Linked DNA regions of Homo sapiens: all the other regions are linked to region 4. Evidence: fine-mapped expression QTL. A gene starts in region 4. Each other region holds a variant in brackets. All regions are shown on one strand. Distances are from middle to middle.

Region 1 (4,167 bases), 40 kb before region 4:
AGAGATTTGCTTACTTTTTTTTTAAAGAGATAAATGTAAAACCATTTAGGAATATATTACAAAATGAGTTTTTAATTTTTTTTTTAGAGGGAAAATCATCTTTCTAATTATGTTTTATTTGGATGAAAATCATCATTGAAGGAGCCCTTTCTGAAACTATATCAGCTGTGTGCTGGCTGGCAAGGAACGGTCAGCCAAGAAGTAAAAATCGAGTGTTCAGATATATCTTGAAGTGGAGGATCTGCTGGACTTTGGCAGATACAGAGACTGCTACTGGAACACTGGGTGCTCTGTCTTAGGAAGTATCACAGAAGTAGCAAAAACATGAGCAGTGGGGGTGGGGACATGAGGGGACAAAAAGCCACAGACAAGCTGGTAACTTGTCTACAGAAGACTGGTTTGCTCCAGACCAGACAAGGAAAGCTTAGGTGGCAATACACGGACTCAGGCAAAGAAGGCTTTCCTAATGCCCGTGTCTGCTTCATAGAAAGGAACTGCTGACACTGTCTGGTCTGTGGATGGATATAAGAGGAGCTTTGGGGATGACTAAAAACTTGGAAACTAAAGAGACCTTATAGTAGGGAAACCACATATGTAAATATTAACAACTCAACCAGAATTGCGAAACAGGCCAGTGGCCCCAGGTTTTATCAGCCAGTGCCCTGTGCCCTCACTGAGAAACACCTCCCAGCATTCACGTCAGAACTCAATCCTGCTGCTCAGGGGTTTCACGGAGAACAAAGTCTGTGGTAACACTTTATTTTTCTTCCAAAGTCTGACACAAGAATGTAGGCTTTCCCAGAAATCCAGCTTCCTTTGCTTTCCTCTACTTATTTTCTGTGTTAATTCTCAAGAGAGACTATTATGCAGTGTGCATTCGATTTTAAAAACTTTGCTTTGGATACTATTTATTGTGTAGATATTTATGGGCCAATAAATATCTGTATCTGGAAAAGACGAGGTTCAGGGAACTACATGTACAACTCCGCCAAGGCCCTGGGCCCTGTCTCGGGCTATTTCCACCTACACACATGTATGACCATGAGGATGGAGTCAAATGCACTTACCTGCCCCTAACATCACAGACGGATTACTGGTGTTTGTGCAGCTAGTAATGGCAGCAATGACCACAGAACCATGAGCAAGGGTGAATTCAGTGTTATCATAGATAAAGGTCTTATGGTCATTATGATGTTCAGGAGCAACTTGGAATCCTTTAAATCCTTGCTAAAGGAAGAAAAAATGTATATTATATAGGAATATATTTATATAAGATATACATGTATCTGGCTAGAGGAAAATACATACATATAGTCAACAGTTCTCACTTGAGAAGAAGGAATACTTTGGTAACTATAATTTTAAAGGCCAATTCTTAACAAAAGCATAAGTATCTCTGCAAGTAAACTCTGAAATGCTACAGAAAAATTACTCGTTTGAAATCTTTACAAAAAGCAGTCATGATATCTGAGTCTTACTCTGCACTGAAATTAGTAACAATTACTTCCTTCCCACCTCAAAAATGTAAATGCTAAAACTACAAATTTAAAGTTAGTCTAAATTGAACTCAATGACATTATTGTACAGTTTAATGGATATGGACTGATTAAGACTATGGATTCTAACCTTATGGAAATTTAGAAAAAGGCGCTATTTTGACCAGACTCAATTAATCATGATCAACAACGCAAACAAAGTACAGCTGAATATTTGGCATAATACTGGTGTCTCACAGATAAAATCCATCATACATCTTAATCATTCTTTTGGGAAATGTTCATTGAAAATCTAC[C/T]GCATGTAAGATACTGTGCTAGGTACCTTGCGGGCTCCCAAGGTGATTCAGACACAAATCCTATTCTCACACGTACAGTCTAGCAACAGAAATCATACATGCAAATAAAGTACCAACAATGTAAGTTAAAGAATATGGAATGCTATCGAAGTATTTCAGCCCAAGCACCATGAAGTGTCCAATAAGGGAAAGGGGACTTTCTGCTATGAGATTCTGAGAACCCAATGCAGAGTAGCTGGTATCTGAACCAAGTCTTATGGAGTTCACAGAACAGAGTAATATGAGTTGGAGAAGAGACTTTCAGGCAGGGAGGGGCATGCACAAAGGTGCAACAGCTAGAAAACCTCGGGTGAGTAAACAGTGTGGTGAGGGTCCTGTGAAAAGCAGACATGCTTAAAAAGGTGGGTTGAGTTGTGTCTATGATGGCTCTTGCCGCTTGGCTCGTGACTAATGGAGGAAGTCATTAAGGACTTCAGAAGGAAGAATAAACACCCTCAAGCTTCAGGCTACAGGAAGATTCATGTCAAGTGGGATGAAAGCCTGGACGCTGAGTAACCAGGCAAGAGGTAGAGTTGAGAGGATTCAACCTCTTCCCGCAGGCCCCTACCTTGGCTCCAAGGCAGCTCTCAAAGTCCTTTTTCATGTCGGACACAGCAACTTTGTCCTGAGGCCTTTTGGGTCCACTACAGCAAGGCACTACTGTTTTCAAATCTAATTCCACAACCTGTTGACCCCAAAGAAAAGAAATTATAGAATTTACATTATACCCACAAAGAGGAAACCCAAAGCATGTCAGAGAATTTAAAACATGACAACCATAAAAATAAGCAAATAAACTACCACATTCCAAAACAAGGAAGCCAGTGTTTCTCTTAATCCTCTTAATTAATCTTAAGTGATTAATTTCCCAAGATCATCATGGGCACTTAAGTAGCAGGAGACAGGCAGGCAGCCTTGCCACCTCTCAGAAAGAACAGGGTGGGTGCTGCAGATGCTCAGTGTCCTCCACTCGCCCATCCTTGGAGGCAGCTCATCGCGTTTTATATGGCTAAGTTAGGCCGAAGGTGGGTTTTCTATTGAAATCATACATAAACCATTACACTTCTAAGGTGATTTCGGAGGGATGCAGCCGTTAAGTTATCAACACCAGGAAACGGGCCTTAGTCTAACTGAACATTTCCCCTCCTCAATGTATTAAGAAACCAAACATGGGTCGCAGGGCTAGTTTACCTTGTTGTCTAGAAAAACGTGGATTCAGTTTACTGACATGTTTGTACCTTCACTTCTTTCTAGGTCTGTAATAATGATGGTTTAGCCTTTAAACAGCTCTTGTTCCACTAGTGAAGTCTCTTTATTTTTCTTTATATTTCAATAGATTTTTGGGGAACAGGTGGTGTTTGGTTACATGAATAAGTTCTTTAGCGGTGATTTCTGAGGTTTTGGTGCATCCATCACCTGAGCAGTGTACACTGTACCCAAATTTGTAATCTTTTATCCTTCACCTCCCTCCCACCCTTTGCCCTGAGTCCCCAAAGTCCATTGTATCATTCTTATTCCTTTAGCAAAGTCTTTCAGTGGTCTTCCACATTAAGAGGTGTGAATCAGTAGTTCAAATAGGGAAGCACACTTAACCTACAATTATTAAGCCAGTAGGAATGTAAGAAGTTATATTATTCTGTTATGTTTACAATTGCCTTATCCTTTTGGTTTTTCAACCTTCTAAAACTCCGTTCTCTTGTAATGCCTTGGCAGTGACTAATTTCCTACTAGCGCATTCCCCCAAGAAAAACCACCACTAAAATCGCAGCCTTGAGGAAGAGGAAATACATGCACAGTGGAAGGCACTCTCATACCTGGGTGAAGTCTGGGTCTTGAGAAGGGTCATTGAAATCTCGAAACATTCCTACAGCCTGAAGATATTTTTTAATATACTTTAATTTTTCTTCATCACGACCTAAAAGGCATTTTAAGGAGTAACAAGTAACATAGGTTAGTATTTCCTGGTTGAAGTTTATAAACTGATACTTCCATTAGCAATTATGTAAGTACGCAACATACGCTGCACTTACACACACACCAACAGCTCTGTCAATTTTTAGGCTTCCAGGCTAATGGTTTGACTCTCCCACTGATGCTGCTTTTTATTAGGGGCCATTAATGAATGTGCTGTTCCTATCAAAGTGACTGTTTTCTGAAAAAGATTCTGGTTCTATCTATAGATAACCCGCCTCTTTTGGGGTATAGCCTTTAATTAGGAGAATCTTACACCTGAGCTAATTGTGAAAGCACACCTATGCATTTGCCTTCAACTGGCCACAAAGATTCAGCATTCCACATGATTACCGTTAAAATTAAAACGCATCCCAACCCCACCT
Region 2 (4,167 bases), 32 kb before region 4:
AGAGAAAAATTAAATGTATACAATTTGAGACTTAACATATTAGTGGTCAAATTTATTGGTGATGAAGAAACAAAATGGAATTGCATCTCCTTGCTTGCTGAGTGATAATATGAATTTCATTCATGACTATTTACAATGCAGAATAGGAGAGGTAACTAGTGAAAGTAAAGAGAGTAATTATTGTTTGGTTCAAGTGATTCCTACAATGCCTTTAACTATGGTAGGCAGAAAACATGAACTGAATTGAAGTTAAAACTAATCTAATCATAAAGTCTGACTCTTAGGAACAGACTCAAGACATTCATATGACAACAGCAGCCTGGACATTTAAAGAACTCTTGTTTCTATACTCCTCATCCATGACCTCATTATAACATCTCTCTGACCTGGAATGTGTCTGGGCTGGTATTTTCATCTCTTTATGTTGGGAGACAGAAAACTAGCAATGCTTAGAGGATCAGTACCTTATAGAATCACAATCTCCTGTGTGTAGGACCAAGGTTTATGAGGAAGATGGTGTCACTTGATAACATCTGTGAACCACAGATTATACGCTAAGATTTACTCAACGTCATTCAGTCCATCAGGACAACACAGGGCACCAAGATTTTCTAGGATTTTAAAAATCAAACTGCATTGTTTTGAGTCAAGGTAGAATAAGTCATAGTCACAAGATCGCAGATTCAGCACACAGAATGTGCTCATAAAGCATGTATCATAGGATTGAGTGAACACAGGAAAGGCTAGTAAAATTAATAGCTAAGACCAAAGTCAGACTTCATTAATAAATGAAGTACTGGATAACTACTTCCTAGTACCCAGTAGTTAACACTTTTTGACACTACTAGGAACCAGCAACTATTCTAAATGCTTTGTGTTAATTTTCTCATCTAGTCTCCATAATATCCCTTTGAGTTAGGTGCAACTAATAGCCACATTTTTCAAGTGGGGAAACTGAGACACAGAGAGGTTAAGAAACTTGCTCAGGACCACAGACACTAGTCAGTGGTGGAACTGGGATTGAAACCCAGGCAGTCTGACTCCCGAGTTGACACTATCCTTTAATCCCTATACCACATGGACTTCCCGTCATAGTTAACAGCGACTGTGGCAGTAATGGTGGCAGTGGTAGTTAACACCACCACAGTAACAGCAAGAGCTAAAGGACAACATTACGTTGTGGGCGCTCAGAGCTTTACACATGTGAACTTATCATCACAACCCCTCATGTAAATACTACTGTCATCCTCAATATCCAGAAGCAGCAGCTGAGGCACAGAAAGGTTAAATTTGTCCAAAGTTAGACGATAACACAGTGCTGTTATCTGAGCCTAGGTCTGACTGGCCCTGGGGGTTTCTACCTTGACCATGATACTCTGCTTCTCACTCACTCTGATCCTCCCCTCCCCCAGAGCCTGCCACATGCTACATGCTGAAAATGCAATGGTGCAAAAGCTGTGTGCTCACTGCCCACTGGCACTCTGAGTCTGGTGAAAGGGCAATGGCAAAAGAATGCAATCATCACTGCCTGGTACGGGAGCACTTGGAATGGGCCATGAACCCACCTGGGGGTGGGGGTTGGGGGGATTGGAATGCTTTCCAGAAGGACATGGTATCAATGTGGTCTGAAGGATGAC[G/A]GTGAGTCAGCCCGAGCAAGATGGGCAGACACTCCTTGGGAAAAAAGGGACCGGAAGCATGTGTTATTTACCTCATAGAAAACACATCTGGAGCCGGGCACAGTAGCTCGCACCTGTAATCCCAGCACTTTGGGAGGCTGAGGCGGGCAGATCACGAGGTCAGGAGTTCAAGACCAGACTGGCCAACATGGTGAAACCCCATCTCTGCTAAAAATATAAAAATTAGCCGGGCATGGTGGCAGGCGCCTGTAATCCCAGCTACTCGAGAGGCTGAGGCAGGAGAATCACTTGAACCTGGGAGGTGGAGGTTGCAGTGAGCCAAGATCGCGCCACTGCACTCCAACTTGGGCGACAAAGCAAGACGCCATCTCAAAAAAAAAAAAAAAGAAAACATATTTGGTTACCACACAGATTTTTTTTCTCTTGATATGAATATTCTCCAAGACAAGTGTTGGTTGCTTTAATAGGTAGGATCAATTCCTGAGACTGCCTAACATGGGCTGGGGTCTACAACCCAGCCCATGGGCCAAATGTGACCCAATGCCCATATATGCTTGGCCCTCAAATGAAGGATGATTTTTACATTTTTAAAGGCTGGGGTGTTGGGGGGAAGAATATGTGACAGAGACAGCATGTGGCCAGCAAAGCCTAAAGTATTTGCTATTGGCCCTTTCTAGAAAAAGTCTGCTGATCCCTGCCTGAGTGAATGAGTGTCTATTTGTGTGTGTACATGTTCGAGAAGAGCAAAAGAGGGAGAGAAAGGAGGGACCCCGGGATAGCAGAACAAGGCAGGACACCTGCACCGACACCGGCATCAGCAGACTCTGTGGACCCTCTGGACGAGACACAGCTGCTCCTCAAGGTACTCATCTCGACCTTCTTAATAGTATGCTGAGGGCTCCATCACTCCAGTTCCCACCTGTCTCTACGTCCAGATCTATGTTTCCAGTGTGTTTCGGGCATGCGCACCAAGAATACTTCAGGCACCATCAACTCAATGGGTCAAACCCTGATGCTGGGCTTTCTTTCCTAAATCTGTTCCTCTTCCCTGTCTGTCCATATCTAATGAGCTCTTTTCCCACCACTTAGTACCTATAGCTATCAAGATATTTATTCCAGAAATAGCCTCCCAACCAGCTGCCCTGTGAGGCCATTCAATCTACCTTTGGTATGGTCACCTCAATCATTTCTAAAATATAAATCATCATGCACCAGTCTGAATCTACCAATGGCTTCCCATTTTCTTATAAAGTAAAAATTCCTTGTCTTAAAAACCTAAGTCCTTCAACCTGACCTCAGCCATCCTTTATAAGCCCTCTCCTAGCCTCCAGTCCAAGCTCTCAGCTTCAGCTACACTGTAGCCAGCATGCTCTTCCCACCCCCACTTTCCTCGTGCCTTTGCATGCTCTATTTGCTCTGAGTGGAAGGTCTTTTTCAGCTCTTCTCTCCTTGGTAAACAGGCTCAGGATCCAGATCAGGTGACGCTCCTTGAAAAACCCACAGACTCCCCAGGTCAGGATGATTTGCCCCTTCTCTGTGGTGACTACACTTATCAACTGCATGAAAGCTGTGTGTTCACTAATTTCTCTCCCCTTCTAAACTATAATCTGTTTCTGGAATAAATACTGGCACATAATAGATCTGCTAAATGGATTTAATTTTTTTAAAAAAGGAAAGCATCTCTGACCTTGATTTCTACCACTACAGGTAAGATTATAACCACATGTGGCCCCTGCCTCTCCTCCCCATCTATTTTGCTATACTGTGAGCACTTATGGACTCCTAGTCATTGTCCCTGATCTTCCACCCTCCAGCACCAGGAGGATGGCAGAGCTTCTCACAGCAGAAGCATGACTGATGATTGACGGAGGAATGTTTACCCCAGAAAATGCTGGGGGTATCAGTTTGATGGAAGTGACATGTTCATAGGACGTGCAGAAGCCAGAAATGCTTAGACTGTTTCATGATACAGTAATTCCAGGTAAAACCCTATTTACTCAGGAAAACAAAACATCTATTATATGGAGCTTGGCTCAATTAGCCTAGTTCTAGTTACTGGAATGAATAGACCTAGCATTCAGAATTTTCTACCACTCAGAACTTCCCTAAATTAGTCTAATCTAGTGAGCTTTTAATAAGGTCTCTAAATGTGAATGGCCTCACGGACTAAAGAGGAAATTTCTTAGTTCATTTGAATTCAGAATTGAATGTAGTTCAGTTTCTGAGAATTACATTTAATGGAGCTCCAGAAATTCACGGACAGTATTAACATGGAGATAGTTTTCACATTAATGAAATCTGGTCAGAAATGTTATGAAATTCTTTTTTTTTGAGACGGAGTCTCACTCTGTCGCCCAGGCTGGAGTGCAGTGGCGCAATCTCGGCTCACTGCAAGCTCCGCCTCCTGGGTTCACGCCATTCCCGGGCCTCACTCAGCCTCCCAAGTAGCTGGGACTACAGGCGCCTGCCACCACACCCAGTTAATTTTTTGTATTTTTAGTAGAGATGGGGTTTCACCGTGTTAGCCAGG
Region 3 (4,167 bases), 88 kb before region 4:
ACAGAAGGTGGAGATCATTGAGGGCTACCTTAGAGGTAGACTAACCAGATGTTCTTTGGTTTCTTTTATCAGTGTTTTGTCATTTTCAGCAGATTCTGCACATATTTTGTTAGACTTATACCTAGGTATTAATTTTTTGATGCTATTATAAATGGTACTTTAAAACCTTTTTTTTTTTTTTTTTTTTTTGAGACAGGGTCTCACTCTCATTGCCCAGGTTGGAGTACACTAGTGTGATCACAGCTCACTGCAGCCTCAACTTCCCTAGCTCAGGTGATTCTCCCATCTCAGCCTCCCCAGTAGCTGGGACTGCAGGTGTAAACCACCACACCCAGCTAATTTTTATTTTTATTTATTTAATTTTGAGACGGAGTCTCGGTCTGTCACCCAGGCCGGAGTGCAGTGGCACAACCTCGGCTCACTGCAACCTATGCCTCCCCGGTTCAAGCGATTCTCTTGCCTCAGCTTCCTGAGTAGCTGAGACTACAGGTGTGTGCCACCATGCCCAGCTAATTTTTGTATTTTTAGTAGAGACAGGCTTTTGCCATGTTGCCGAGGTTGGTCTTGAACTCCTGGGCTCAAGTGACTCTCCTGCCTCGGCCTCCCAAAATGCTGGGATTATAAGTGTGAGCCACTGTGTCCAGTACTTAAAAACTTTTGAAATTCCAATAGTTTGTTGCTAGTATGTAGAAATTCAGTTGAATTATGTATATTGATCTCCTGTCCTGTGATCATGCTAAACTCACTTATTCTACATACCCACTATTTTTGAACTTTTGTTTTTTCTTTTAAAAATGTCTTAGAGATGGCCAGGTGCGGTGGCTCATGCCTGTAATCCCAGCACTTTGGGAGGATGAGGTGGGTGGATCACGAGGTCAGGAATTCAAGACCAGCCTGGCCAACATGATGAAATCCTGTCTCTACTAAAAATACAAAAATTAGCCATGCATGGTTGCTGATGCCTGTAATCCCAGCTACTCGGGAGGCTGAGGCAAAGAATTGCTTGAACCTGGGAGGCGGAGGTTGCAGTGAGCGAAGATCGTGCCACTGCACTCCAGCCTAGGCGGTAGACCAAGACTCCATCTCAAAAAAAAAAAAAAAAAAAGTCTTAGAGATTAAACCATATCAGGTTACAGAGATCTATGCCATTTTAGTTAATTATTACATAGAGTTCAATTCCAAAATGCTTTTTTTCTCAGGTTTGTCAGTCTGAAAACTGTACGTGTACTAACTTTAAATTTTTTTCTTTTTGCATGTATTTCAATATTGAATTAATACAAATGATTTATAAGGAGTGTCCAATTGATAATTGCTTTTCATTTTCAGGCTTTAAAAAATTGGATTGAAGGAAATCCTAAACTCAGTTTTCTAAAACCTGGCATATTGACTGGACGTGGCAAAACAAATCAGAACACAGGTATTTATATATAGTGAATTAGATTTAGTGGATTATGCATTTAAGAATATGTGTGTGTGTGTATGTATATGTGTGTGTGTATATATATAATATATATTTCAAATTCTGTTTTAATATATATTTCAAGTTCTGTTTTAATGCTTCTATCAGTCAAGGTTTAACCACAGAAGCAAAAGCAGTAGGTGATTATACATATATATGAGAGGTGTGTGTTGTATATGTGTCCACATATGCATATATACAGAGATTTCTTGCAAGGAATTTTACACAATTGGGCTGGCAAAGCAAGTCTGAAGCGTGTAGGGCAGGTAGTCAGGAAGAGACTATCAGGAACAGACTGGAACCCCCCAGACATGAGCTGTTTGGAGTCTCTGACTTTGGAGAAGGCCTAAGCCGTCTTTTAAAAGGCTCACCTGATTAGGCCAGGCCCACCTGGAGTGAACTCTCTTTTGATCTGACTTAAAGTCAACTGATTAGGGACTTGAATCCCATCGGTAAAATCTCTTCAGAGCAGTACCTAGATGAATTACTGGGAACTGTTGTTTGGCCTAGCCAAGTTAATGCATCAAAAAGCCATCACAATGCTCAAATGCCAAAAACCACTCCAG[G/T]CTCTTTCCTTGTAGACATTGCCTCCTCTCATATGTCCTGCAGACAAAGCCAGGGTTGTTTTTTAAGTCATGCTTGCACGCATTATCATCCTGCTCAAATTTTCAACCAATAGATTAAGATTGTCTAGAAATAGAAATGTTCTATTTCTGTTTTATTGTTATTCTTTAAGCAGTAGATATGCATAGCTTTTGTGTATATTATGTATTTTACAATTTTAAAAAGTCCAAGCAGACAATTCTGAAATCCAGCTAGAGTGGTCAAAGGATAAAAGGCTGCCTGTGTTATTATCTGGGAGGATCCTAGGTGGCCCGCCCTCATCCTGACCACCTCACAGCTGTGCCCCCCACCCCTCAGTGACTGGCACTGACAAGTCTTCCTATTTAGTGTTGTTTATAATAAGCACCCTCCCATACCCACCCTGTCAGTCCCTAGTTATCACCCTCGCACTTTCCCTTCATGTCATTTTTAAACTTCATAAATATGAAAAGTAGATTCAGATCTTAAAAAGTGGCTCACCAAATGAAGTCTAACACCATATTTTTGTGGTTGGGATTCAAAGTTCTCTGCGATCTGACTCCAACATGAGTCCTCCTTGATTTTCAAACTTTGTTGTTCCTCCACAAGTAGACACTCAGGAAATATTTTCTTATTGGTTTGTTCATTTATTCATCCGTTCATTCAACAACATTTATTTATAACTTGTGCTGTGCCAGGCATTGTGCTTCTGCCATGTAGCCTTCCCCAACCTCCAAAAACTGGTAGAGAGCTCCTTCTTCCACATTCGCATAGCATCCTTTCTGTGCTCATCATACTCAATTATAGCTTCTTATTTATATTTTTCTTCTACAAAATGTGAGCTCCTTGTGGATAAAAATGGACCTTTTAATCATTATTTTTATCTGACAAGCCATAATTGCTGAATAAATGTTTGACTGAATAGATGAATAAACTAAGAAATTAATCACGTATGATGTCTGTTCCAGAGATGCTCATTGTTTAGTAGATGATGATGGTGAAAAGAAATTGTTTTGGCCTTAGCAAAATATATCTCAAGATTTGGGCTGGAAATATATTAGGAAAAAATTGGAACTTTTATTTATTTTATTTTATTTTTGAGACAGAGTCTTGCTCTGTTTTCCAGGCTAGAGTGCAGTGGCACGAACTCAGCTCACTGCAACCTTCCAGTTTCAAGTGATTCTCATGCCTCAGCCTCCCAAGTAGCTGGGATTACAGGTGCACACCACCATGCCCAGCTAATTTTTGTATTTTTAGTAGGGACAGGATTTTGCCATGTTGGCCAGGCTGGTCTTGAACTCCTGGCCTCAAGTAATCTGCCACCTTGACCTCCCAAAATGCTGGGATTACAGGTGTGAAACACCATGCCTAGCCAATTGGAGCTTCTATAAATTCTGTTAACCCTGAGGTAGAGACCACTGAAGTATTTTCTTCACTCAGTTTATCAGTGTGAACTCTATAGCTTTTATCGAATGGGTTAAACTTGATTTACCAGTAAATTAAGACAATTTTAGCTGAATTTGTTTCTGGTCTGATCCTCTTCCTTGCACAGTTAAGCTAGAAGAATTGTGAACACCTTTTTTTACAAAAAGCTGCATGTAAACAAGCAAAAGTTCAGTTTGCTAAATTTGTATATTTCCACATTTCCATTTCTTAATTTCCTGTTTCATGAAGAAGCAGGTTACCTAACCTCTTCATGACTTACTTTCTTCATCTGTCAAATGGAAAAATAATAATAGTACCTAGCTGAGAGGGTTAATGTCAGTAGCAAAATCTGGCTCACTGCCTGCTTATGAATGACTCTTGAGCTGAGAATGATTTTTGTTTGAAAAAAAATCAAAAGAATATTTTATGACATGTGAAAGGTTTGTGCAATTCAAATTTCATTGTCTATAAAATAACTTTTTGGGGGAACACAGTCATGACCATTCATGTATGTATTGTCTGTGGCTGCTTTCCAACTATAATGGCAGTGTTGGGTAGCTGAGACAGCATGACCCACAGAGCCTAAAGTATTTACTATACATCTAGCCCTTATGGAAAAAGTTTGCCCACTTCTGGTTTAGAACAATGCCTGGCATGTGGTGAGTGCTCAATGTATGTTAAATGTTAGTTACTATTCACAT
Region 4 (4,167 bases):
GCTCTATGGATGAAGGAACAAAAGGGAGGATGGAGTTAGAAAATTTCTTCCTCCCAAATATATACACATAACATCTGTCTTGAACTTGTTCTGACAAGGCACGAAGCTAAGGAAAGAGTCCCGTGAAGGACCTCACCTACCACACTCCAGGATGGTGGAAACTGCTTTTTGACAGGGGCTGAGGAAGCACCACTCAGAGTGACACCCTCTGAAAGTGGAAAGTGAAAGAACGTCAAGACTGGAAATCATTATTCCAATAAACTCAAGGCTAATAACCATGCAACTGCAAACAGAAATGAACACGTGCAAGGGAAGGCAAAAGCATGCCTCCTTGTTCTTTTGGAAATAACTTCCTGACTACTTGGTAACTCTCACAGGAACCCCTACACACTTGGCATGGTCTCCCCACTGGCACTTTTGTGAGCCTACAGGTCCTGTTTGCCACATCACTGTTGTAATCCTGATGCACAGACAGGTCAGCTCTGCAAGCACAGAGACAACCAAAGGCATGTGCGAAGCCTTGCTGACTTTTCAGGAGGCTGGCAAGGTTCATCACAGCCTCACGTGGGGACCTAGTACATGGTTTCCAAAGTGAGATCAAACTTGGTTCCAGATACCAGAGGTTAATACTGTCCATGGCATGAGGTGGTGTGTGTTCCCAATCAGAGGAAGGATCACAAACAAGAAGCAGGCCCAATGAATGAAGCCTCTGAAGCATTTCCTACACCAGCATCCTCAAAGTGTGGTGCAGAGAACTCCTAGGGATCTCCAAAGTCAAAACCATTTTCCTAGTAATAAAATGTTACTTGCTTTTTTTCATTCACACATTTTCAGGAGTATACAGTGGAGGTCTCAAGAGGCTACATGATATGTGATATTGCAACAGACTGCAGAAGCAGCTATCAGAATCCAGCTGTCTTCAATTACGCTTGACATCAAAGAGATTTGCAAAAATGTAAAACAATGCCACTCTTCTCAATCATTTTCTGTTTTGGGAAATATAGTTCTTTTTCATAAAAATAGGCAATGTTAAGATATAATTAGTTCACTATTCTTTTTAAATGAATTATTATAGTACAAATTTCTCAGTCTTACTTACATATTATAAATATGGATAGATATAACACACATAAAAGCTCCTTAAGATACTAATTTTTAAGAGTGTAAAGGAGTACTGAGTACCAGAAAAGTTTGGGGACTTCTGTCCTAGAGGTTGTCCCCCAGGGAAGAGAGTTACATGTGTTGCAAGAAGGAAGATGCCATTATGATGTGCTAGCTGAATCTAGAAAAAAATGACTTGGTCATAACTGCAGCCCAAGCTCCTTTCTAGATCTCTGAATCTATCATGGTGGGCTCTGTGTTCAAGCCTCCCACGAAGGGTCTCTTCCCCCTCATCCCATTTTCCCTTTACCCCTTGGAGTGGATTCCCGGATCTGCCCGCACAACTTTAGCAAGGGTTTCCCTATCCAGCCAGCCGGGCCTGGGCGAGGACTCCCAGTGCGGGCCTCACACCCTCGGGGTTAGGACTCCCAGGACTGGCCGCACACCCTAGGCAAGGACTTTCAGGACAGCACGCACAGCCAAGGCTAAGAAGGGTCTAGGAAAGCCACTTCCAATCCCTGGTTTCTCTCCCCGGCATGACATAGACTGGGGACAGGGTGGAGACGTCAGTCGCCAGAAACACGTCCCCGATTCTCCTCTCAGCCTCCCCAAGCTCGCCTCCGTGTCCCCCGTGCCGCCACTGCCTCGGGCACCTCGGTAAAGGCCCGCACCGACTCTCGAGGGATACAGGGTGGACGGCGCTCCCGCCTGGGGACGTGGGTCGGGCCGCGTCGGTACTCACCTCCGACTGCACGGCGGGGCTCCCGCGACCGGCGAACCTGACCCAAGCAGCGGGACGCGTTCCCGTGCGCTGCGCGGTTCCAGCTGCCGCCTCCACGCTCCGCCCCCTCTCGCCCCCGGGGCCGCCGCGCGATGGGCGGAGCAGGGGCGGGAAGGGCGGAGCAGGGGCGGGACGGACGGGCAGCTAGCCGAAGAAGGGGCGGAGCCTGCGGGCGCCCCCGCGGGCCTGGAGGACTTCGCCCCGGGCTGGAGGCTAGGGTTGCGAAGGGCTCCTCCGCTGGAAGTGGGAGGGCTGATCCCTCGGCCCGGGTCCGCTTCTGCCAGCATGGGACCTGGGACGAGGGTGTCTGTTGCTCACTTTGGAGCTTAGCATGTGACTCCCCAGCCGGCGTTAGGAAGTGACCAAAGGGTGGGGAAGAAATGGAATTATTTTTAAAAAATGATTTGGCCATAACTGGAGAGGCTTCATGTACGTGTGGTCACTTGGCCCGCCTCCCTTCTCACTTTGTCCGTCCCCACCCTACCCACCCTCTCCACCCTCGCCTTAATTCTTTGCGCAAAGCCTGCCAAGTGGACATCGGAGTCACGCTGTCAGAATAGGACTTCAGCATTTCCGTGGCAAAAGTTCTATATGTAGATTTCCTTGGACATGTAACAACACTTTCTAATGCACGATGTTCACCGGTCTGAAGTCGGAGAAATGGCTGGGAGATGGCAGCAAGTGGGCTTTCACAAGATCTGCTTTTCATGTTGGTAGGAGTTGTGCCCTCTTGGGTGAATGGCGTTCAAAGAAGTGATTAGATCTTTCTAGATGAAAGGTGGTGAGGTTTTCCTGCCCAAATTATTTGGAAAGTTACTGTAGTTTTCTGAATAAGCAGCTTATAGGATGAGTAAACAATAGCCAGTACTAATAGCCCCCCTGCTACTTTATACTGCCCTCCTATTCTGCACAAAGCCCTGTGATCGACTCTTTCCACGTTATTCAGTTCAGCTCTTCCAACCACCTTACAAGTAAAGAATATTACCCGTCTTTGCAGGTGTGCAATGCGCAACAGCTGAGACTCAGTCCTTAGGTTGGTTTGACACCAAAGCCTACACCTTCCCTGTCATACTGCACTATAGGGTACAACTATCGTCTAGTTATATTTAACTTTGAAATATAAATACTTATATTTATTTTGAAAGGGGAAGTAACTGTATTTCCAATATGAGAGGAGACTGTTTTCCCACCCACTTCCTAAATCCTTTCCATTCACATTAGTAATTAAATTTTCTTTGAATGTCCACCATATGGCAGAGGTGCACCACAATCCCTGAAAAATCATGCTCCAGTCCCCTTGGGAGGTAGGGAGAGTAGGGGCAAGGTGAGAGTGAGTAGAAGGCTGGGGAAGTCCGATGAGGACACATCCAGCTAAATTGCGATTCTTAATGAGGCAGCCATTCGGAAAGCAAAGTATCTAATGTTCAATGATAACATCCGTGTAACTGAGAATCCTTCGCAGAAAACAATCAAATCAGAGCTATGAAGGGAATTGAGATTTATTAGTAAGCACGCTGGTCAAAACCGTGAAGGAAATAGTTCCACATCCCCCCAGTCTGTTGCTCTTGGACGTTGTCACCAGTGACGTGCAGATCGTGAATCCCAGGGCCTGTCCTCTGTTCCTGTCCTTACTCACTACTCTGTGGTATTTGACACTGGCGATTCGTTTTCCTAGAAATGTTAACCTCCTTTTGGCTTTTCAGCCCTCCGCTCTTAGGAGTCACCTCTTCCCTCTTTTGTCCCTCTTTTTTAAGGTCTTTCCCTACACTCTCTCCTCTTGCTTTATATGTTTCTCCATTTGCTGAGTTTTTCTTCATCTATTTTCTCAGTATGCAGACTGCCTGCCACTTCTAGCTGAAGCCTGCTATGTCTCTGTCATTGGTCTTAGTTAACTTTCTGACCTTCACACTCTTGATTTGCAGCCATATGTGGCAACCCCACCTGGATATTCCAAAGGTGTCTGTATTAGACCGTTCTCACGCTGCTGTAAAGAACCCTGAGACTGGGTAATTCATAGGGAAGGAGGTTTAATTGGCTCACAGTTCTGCATGCTGGGGAGGCTTCAGGAAGCTTACAATTATGGCAGAAGGGGAAGCAGGTATGTCTTACCTGGCAGCAGGCAAGAGAGTGTCCTCTGAATGCACAGTGGTCCTCCTGAATGCTTTGAGGGGACCTTAGAATCCCTAAATTTTTCACTGAATATATGTCTTCATACCAGAGAAAATTTGAAATAAACGTTTTGTTCCTCTTTAAGAAAAAAAGAGTTAAATTCATAACAAGGAGAG

Alleles and levels. Positions count from the first base shown, and alleles are read on the strand shown. Sizes are in standard deviations (SD) of each study's normalised expression. Not every link is listed here.
With allele T in place of G in region 3, the expression in subcutaneous fat of the gene that starts at base 1,936 in region 4 is lower (small effect, 0.39 SD a copy in TwinsUK).

Evidence for each region. PIP is the estimated chance that this variant, and not a neighbour inherited with it, causes the effect.
Region 1: its variant is the best candidate, but not a certain one, in a credible set for the expression of ACO1 in esophagus muscle (GTEx, PIP 0.88).
Region 2: its variant is the best candidate, but not a certain one, in a credible set for the expression of ACO1 in pancreas (GTEx, PIP 0.82).
Region 3: its variant is the best candidate, but not a certain one, in a credible set for the expression of ACO1 in subcutaneous fat (TwinsUK, PIP 0.78).

The regions. Positions count from the first base shown.
Region 1 is chr9:32,422,898-32,427,064 of GRCh38, reverse strand. It overlaps ACO1 (aconitase 1), which reads right to left. Exons shown (of 21, transcript NM_002197.3): 9 at 3,646-3,746; 10 at 2,400-2,516; 11 at 1,068-1,227. Among named protein-coding and RNA genes, the nearest start is that of ACO1, 40 kb to the right of the region's middle. The variant C/T (reference allele first, on the strand shown) is at 1,793.
Region 2 is chr9:32,413,954-32,418,120 of GRCh38, reverse strand. All of the region lies in intron 4 of ACO1 (aconitase 1), which reads right to left. Among named protein-coding and RNA genes, the nearest start is that of ACO1, 31 kb to the right of the region's middle. The variant G/A (reference allele first, on the strand shown) is at 1,638.
Region 3 is chr9:32,470,225-32,474,391 of GRCh38, reverse strand. It overlaps RIGI (RNA sensor RIG-I), which reads left to right. Exons shown (of 18, transcript NM_014314.4): 14 at 1,327-1,417. The region is part of intron 1 of LOC124902138 (a long non-coding RNA gene); the gene reads right to left. Among named protein-coding and RNA genes, the nearest start is that of RIGI, 54 kb to the left of the region's middle. The variant G/T (reference allele first, on the strand shown) is at 2,026.
Region 4 is chr9:32,382,412-32,386,578 of GRCh38, reverse strand. It overlaps ACO1 (aconitase 1), which reads right to left and starts at 1,936. Exons shown (of 21, transcript NM_002197.3): 1 at 1,844-1,936. RefSeq lists a silencer at 1,756-2,135.